2 separate regions of the Homo sapiens genome follow, and region 1 is linked to region 2. Evidence: fine-mapped QTL for protein levels in blood plasma. A gene starts in region 2. The other region holds a variant in brackets. All regions are shown on one strand. Distances are from middle to middle.

What was found. A credible set is the group of variants that fine-mapping cannot tell apart. PIP is the chance, under the fine-mapping model, that this variant and not a neighbour inherited with it causes the effect. Protein levels are from antibody-based Olink assays in UK Biobank. Linkage for the fine-mapping came from a reference panel and not from the study's own genotypes, which makes the PIPs less certain.
Region 1: its variant is the best candidate, but not a certain one, in a credible set for the plasma level of the BANK1 protein (UK Biobank, PIP 0.51). The variant lies in the coding sequence of BANK1. If it changes the protein, the assay may bind it differently, which can mimic a change of level.

What each region holds. Positions count from the first base shown.
Region 1 is chr4:101,828,437-101,831,353 of GRCh38, reverse strand. BANK1 (B cell scaffold protein with ankyrin repeats 1) reads right to left here. Exons shown (of 17, transcript NM_017935.5): 2 at 1,148-1,546. Among named protein-coding and RNA genes, the nearest start is that of BANK1, 39 kb to the right of the region's middle. The variant C/G (reference allele first, on the strand shown) is at 1,497.
Region 2 is chr4:101,788,989-101,791,905 of GRCh38, reverse strand. It overlaps BANK1 (B cell scaffold protein with ankyrin repeats 1), which reads right to left and starts at 1,176. Exons shown (of 17, transcript NM_017935.5): 1 at 956-1,176. The coding sequence starts at 1,025. RefSeq lists a silencer at 900-1,089.

The DNA of each region.
Region 1 (2,917 bases), 39 kb before region 2:
TGGGGTTGATATAGGTTCCCTGGATTTACAGAACTCCAACACTTATGCTGGATCCAGGTTTGGAAATTACTAAAGGCAAGAGACTGTGGCTGTACTGCTGCTCTGAGGGCAGGATGGTGATAGCTACTCTGGGAATGGCTTGTATGCCCAGAGTTTGTCCGGAAAAAGATAAATGAAGATAAAGGAAGGTTTATCTTCAGATAGATGTGGACAAGGTAGGAGAAACACCCAGCCAGGAGGTATCTCAGTGCCATTTTCATCATGAGAGACACATGAAGGAGCCATAGAACTCAACAGTAAGAATCTATATGCATTAGACAACCACAGCTATGATCTTAGAGAAGAGGGACTATTTGACTTATTAAGAAACTGCAAGAGAGACATTCCCAGCGAATAAGGAATTTCCCAAAACTCAGAAATTTGCTCCAAAAAAAATAGCCAACTTTTAATCTGGTGTGGCCAAGATAAAATGATAGCTTCACTCCTTCCCTTTAAGCCATGAAACCATAGTTAGAAGACTGGGAGTTGAGAGCAAAGGGCAGACTAAGGAAACCAGGGAAGCAGCTGACCACAGCACCCCTTTCACACCTAGCAGAATAAAACTGTGGAAGGGAGAAGCTTTAACATTGTAAGCTGCAGCATTTTTATTATTACATGGAAATGTAATTAATTAATTAATGGGACCTGGTATTTTCTTTTATCTAAAGGTTACATGCTTAAAATTTTAAAAGCTCTGTAATTGTAACCCAGACCTTCAAACCTTGAACTGCTACTGACTGGTAACACCACTAGAGTATATTAACTCATGCCTCACCAGTTACATAAGAAACCAGCTTCCAGAACCAAACTGTCATATGACTTGAGCATACCATACTTGTTCTGCCATGATCTCATCCAGGCTGCCCTAAAGAATATATTTATAAGCCATGTTTAGAACAAGGAATAAGCCTTGATTGGAATAGAGCTAAAAATTAAGAAACTTAATGTATTTTGTGGACAGTACAACATACTGTTGAATAAAATCAGCTCTCATTTTTCTTATTCCTATCCTGACACCAGTTATTGGTTCTAAAACAACTTGCAATTCTTTAATTACAAAAAAAAAAAAACAAATAAAAATAAAACAAACAAGGTTTGGCAACACTACCTTTGAATATGATACTCTGGATTACAGAGATGTAGTCTTCAGGTTCCTGTTCAGTTGAGATCTCCCATCTGCTTTGAGAGATATTTAGTAATTCATAGAGCTGATCTGAACTCTTCACTCCACAAAGCAAAGTAACTACACTTTTTGGTGAATGAAGTATCTTTTCCAGAAACTGACATTTCTTTGGAGTTAGGTCTCTAAGCAGGCTATTTGATAATATCAAAAGTTTACATTTGTAAGACGTTAAGTTCAGCAACTCCAAATGCCGAAAAGAGAAATTCTCCAAGCGATATAACAGGATGGCTTCCCTTTTCACAACATGTAAAAATACTTCTGTCAAGTACAGAGC[C/G]CATTCCTCAGCATCTTCTTCATATATCATTATTATATCTTTTGTATTTCCTGGAAAAAGAAAAAATATTTTCTTATATTTGCAATGCTATCAGCAGGTTAAATTATTATTTCTCAAAAATTTTAATATGCTCACTAGGCAATATATTAATTTGCTTATACCAGAGAAAAACTCTATGAAAGTCCTTCATAGTATAAAAAATCATAGATTAAATAAAACTAGAATTCAAAGACAAGTTGATTTAAATTTTAAAAAGAATGATATGAAAGAGTATAATAAATAAGGAAACGAGCCAAAACAATACCATTACCCAGATAATAAATAAATTAGAAAAAGAAATAAGTAGATTAGACATAGATAATGTTATAGATAATATTTTAATTTCTGGCCCAAAAGAAAAGCTTGATATTTTCATAGTAAATCAAAAAAAAACAAAGGAGGAGAAACAGAACAAGGCTAACACAATTGTTGAAAATACGATATATTTAGTTGAGAGTCAAAAACAGAAAAGATTCAGTATAAGGATGATCCAAAAGCCTGACGTAGAAGAGAATAATATACACATTAAAACACTGTAAAACATGTAATTTTTAATAATTTTTAAAATCCTTGAAATAAGAAAGATAAAGGAACCAGCTCTATGGATCAATGTGAAACAATCAGGCTCCAGCTAAAACTGTTAAAGAAAACAGATCTTGCCCGGCGCGGTGGCTCACACCTGTAATCCCAGCACTTTGGGAGGCTGAGGCGGGCTGATCACGAGGTCAGGAGATCGAGACCATTCTAGCTAACACAGTGAAACCCCATCTCTACTAAAAATACAAAAAATTAGCTGGGTGTGGTGGTGGGTGCCTGTAGTCCCAGGCACTTGGGAGGCTGAGTCAGGAGAATGGCTTGAACCCAGGAGGCGGAGTTTGCAGTGAGCGGAGATTATGCCACTGCACTCCAGCCTGGGCAACAGAGTGAGACTCTGTCTCAAAAAAAAAAGAAGAGAAAACAGATCTTGATTAAATTGTCCTTAACTTAATGATAATTATAAAATTTCTTCACATATCCAGGAAAGAAAACAAAGTCACCACAATAAGAGAAATGTGAGGTTGGTCTTGATTTCTTTAGAGCATTTTCAAGGCCAGATGAATTATAAGAAAATTTTTACAAAACTAATTTTCACAGTATATTCATACTATAAAATATTGCATAACAATGAAAAAGAATGTAACAATGCTACATGCAACATGGATGAATCGAAAGACATAATATTGAGTGAAAGAAGAAAGAGTATATATTGCATAATTGTATTTATGTAAAGTTCCAAAGCAGAAAACTTGATTCACAGTGATACAGATCTGAATATTTTAGGGTAGAATTAACAAAATAGGTATGAGAGAGCCTGCTGGAGTTCTGGATATGGTCTATATCTT
Region 2 (2,917 bases):
ATGGGCTCTAAGTCCTTTCTTGTCACTTTTCATTGACACAAATATACTTCTTATTTAACTGAAAGCAATCCCTAAAGCTTATTTATGTAAAAATGCACTAGCCAACAGAAATAGCTACAACCAAAATTACATTACCTAAAAAATTCTAGAAAGGTATGAGAAATTTATTTCTATTCAGCAAATTAAGAAACTTTCACTCAGAATATACTTTCTTGTTGCATTTCTCACCACGAACACTCCAGTAATATTAATACCTAAGTGAAGTTTTTTAATTTAAAAAACATTTTTATATCACTGAGTAATTTGCAAATGCATTTGAAATGCTTCAAAAAGAACTAAATAAAACTGCCTTAACGTCCATTTGAAAATATAAATCTACTTCTGCATTCAACCAAGTTGACCGTTTTCCTTTGACCAAGTTAGTAAAGCCAGTGGAGTAGGGAGGTGGTGTTGGTAGAGTTTCTCTGCAAAGCCACCTGCCAAGAAGCAGGGCTACCAATTCACCAGGCTGGGATTTGTCAGGCCGGGCAGGTAAATGCGTGACGCTACACATGAGCGGTTTTTCTGTGCTTACCGACTGTTGAAAATAATTACGTATAATTTTAAACGCGCATTGCTTTAAAACAGGTTGCAAAGTGATTTTAGAAACTACAGGACCCTGACCCGGGTGCTGGGGAAAGTTCCAGCTCCTCAGAAGTTGCAGACACTGAGGGTAGCCCGCTGGCCAGAACTCCCAGCGCGCTCCCTCCTCGTGGCGTCCAGATGCCCCTCAGAGAAGTCAGGGACAGAAGAACCCTCTGGGCTGCCTGGCGGCAGGATAAAAAGGAGAAGCCCTGTCTCAGGGACGCCCTGGCCTCAGTGCCCGAGTGCAGTTGTCTAACGATGGCCCGTGGTCTCCGCAGAGCCCCGTAGCCCGGCCTCGGCGTCAAGCCCCTCCGAATGCGCGACTACCCACCTGGGGGCGCTGGGCCGCAGGGGGCGGGGTCCGGGCTCCCAAGCCCCTTGCCTGGCGCTGCTGGCAGCATTGTGGCGGTTGAAGCCGAGGGGCCTGCGCACTGCTGCCCGCCGAGCGCTACCTGGACTCTCCCGGCCAGAGACTCCCCGCGATTTTCTCTTCCTTTGGCCCTCGGCTCTCCCCAGCCCGCTTGCCACCCGCGGAGGCTGCGGCCAGGTCTCAGGAAACGCAGCCCCGGGGCTCATGCCCGCAAGGCCAGGGCTCCGCTCTGCTGGGCGCCCAGAGGAAGTGAAACTGCTCAGGGGCCTGCTCTTACATCCCTTCTCAAAAGGCCGCTTTGGTTTCTTATAACACTTCTGCGCCTGTTTCCTTCCTCACCTTTTCATCCTAGGATATATTTAGACCGCTGTTATTGTAGCTCTCCTTGTCCCTTTCTAGGTCTTCCATACTGCCATACTGCCCCCACTTCCAGGCAGACGTAGGGAAACCAGAAGTGAACATTTGCTGGAAAGAAAGAATAATTAGATAGATAGATGAGTAGGTACACAGATGATAGATACATACATATAGAAATGAAGATACAGATAATACTGTAACTTTTAAAATATTTCATTTTACACAGACTTTCTAGGCTAGGTTCATAAATTGAAAAGTGATTTAAAATTCCATATAAAATGTATTTCTTACTCCTGCTCCAACTCAAAAATAGACCCAGTAAAAAATTATTTATGGCTCTAAATACCCTCTCCAAACAAGAGTTTGTTTGCTTGTTTTTAAGATGGAGATATATCAAAGGAGTTGTCCCAGAACCTTAAAGTGAATGTCTCTCTCTCAAGCATGTCTAAACTAGTCATTTGCCTTTTGAAGTTGAATATATTTTTTGAATATCAATTTGGTAATAATACATAGTTTAAATGTTCCTCTCCTCTTCCTATAAAAGGAAGGCTTTCTTTGAAACTTTCTCTCGGATGAAGTGCTTTTTAGTAATAATATAAATATCAAGTATCAAAAAAAGTTAATTTTTTCACATAAATGAACTTATTAGAACTTTATAACATAATGTAGAAAACTTGGAGAAGTATGCGAAATGTCCAAAAAACTTGAAAACAATTATAGATTGTATTGTATTTATCTGGTTTCCAGTAGTTTCTTTAACATCATTATTAATTTTATGTTGATTTTCTGAACTTTATATAATGGAACAAAAGATTTCATCTAACTTATGAAATATTATATTGAAAAAAATGGTTGTCTTCTATATATGCCTGTTAACAGAGAGACTTCAGTGTAATAGGCAAAAACAAATTTGGATTGCAGGGTTTGGGTGTTGTTCAGTGTTTCAGAAACTCAATTCTTAGGAAAGTATGTCTTAAACCCATTGGAGAAAAGAATATTCTAACTGATGCATCTGCTGGTATACGTATTCCTGACAAGAGCTACTTTAGCCAACATGAACACTCCAGATGATGCTCCCCAATTAAGTATCCAGATCTTCAAAGGCACCCATTTATGCACACGAAAACTTGTTAATAAAGACAGTGTTCAGATAGGAACTTGTATCTGTCACATATACAGGACAGCCTTCTTGTATGAAGAGCCCTGGATTGGAAGTCAGAAGGTTGCAGCTGCCATCCTGACTCTGCTCCACAATATCTGGGTGTTTGGAGCAATTCTTAATATTTCTGAGCCTTGCGTATCTCATCTAATTTATTCATTATTAATGAATAAATTAAAATTACTGTATTCGAGTTTCTGCCAGATATAAAATGTTATAACACTGTCTCCTAATAAAACTATAGAAAATAAGATTTATAATATGAAAATTAAGTATATTTTCAGAAGCTCATTTCCACTACTTATGTCAAATGATGCTAGTAAATAGAAAAAAGAAAGTAAAAACTGCTGAAAATTGTGGGCTGTTTTTTTTTTAAAAAAAATAAGATTATGTGTTAGAAAATCTTT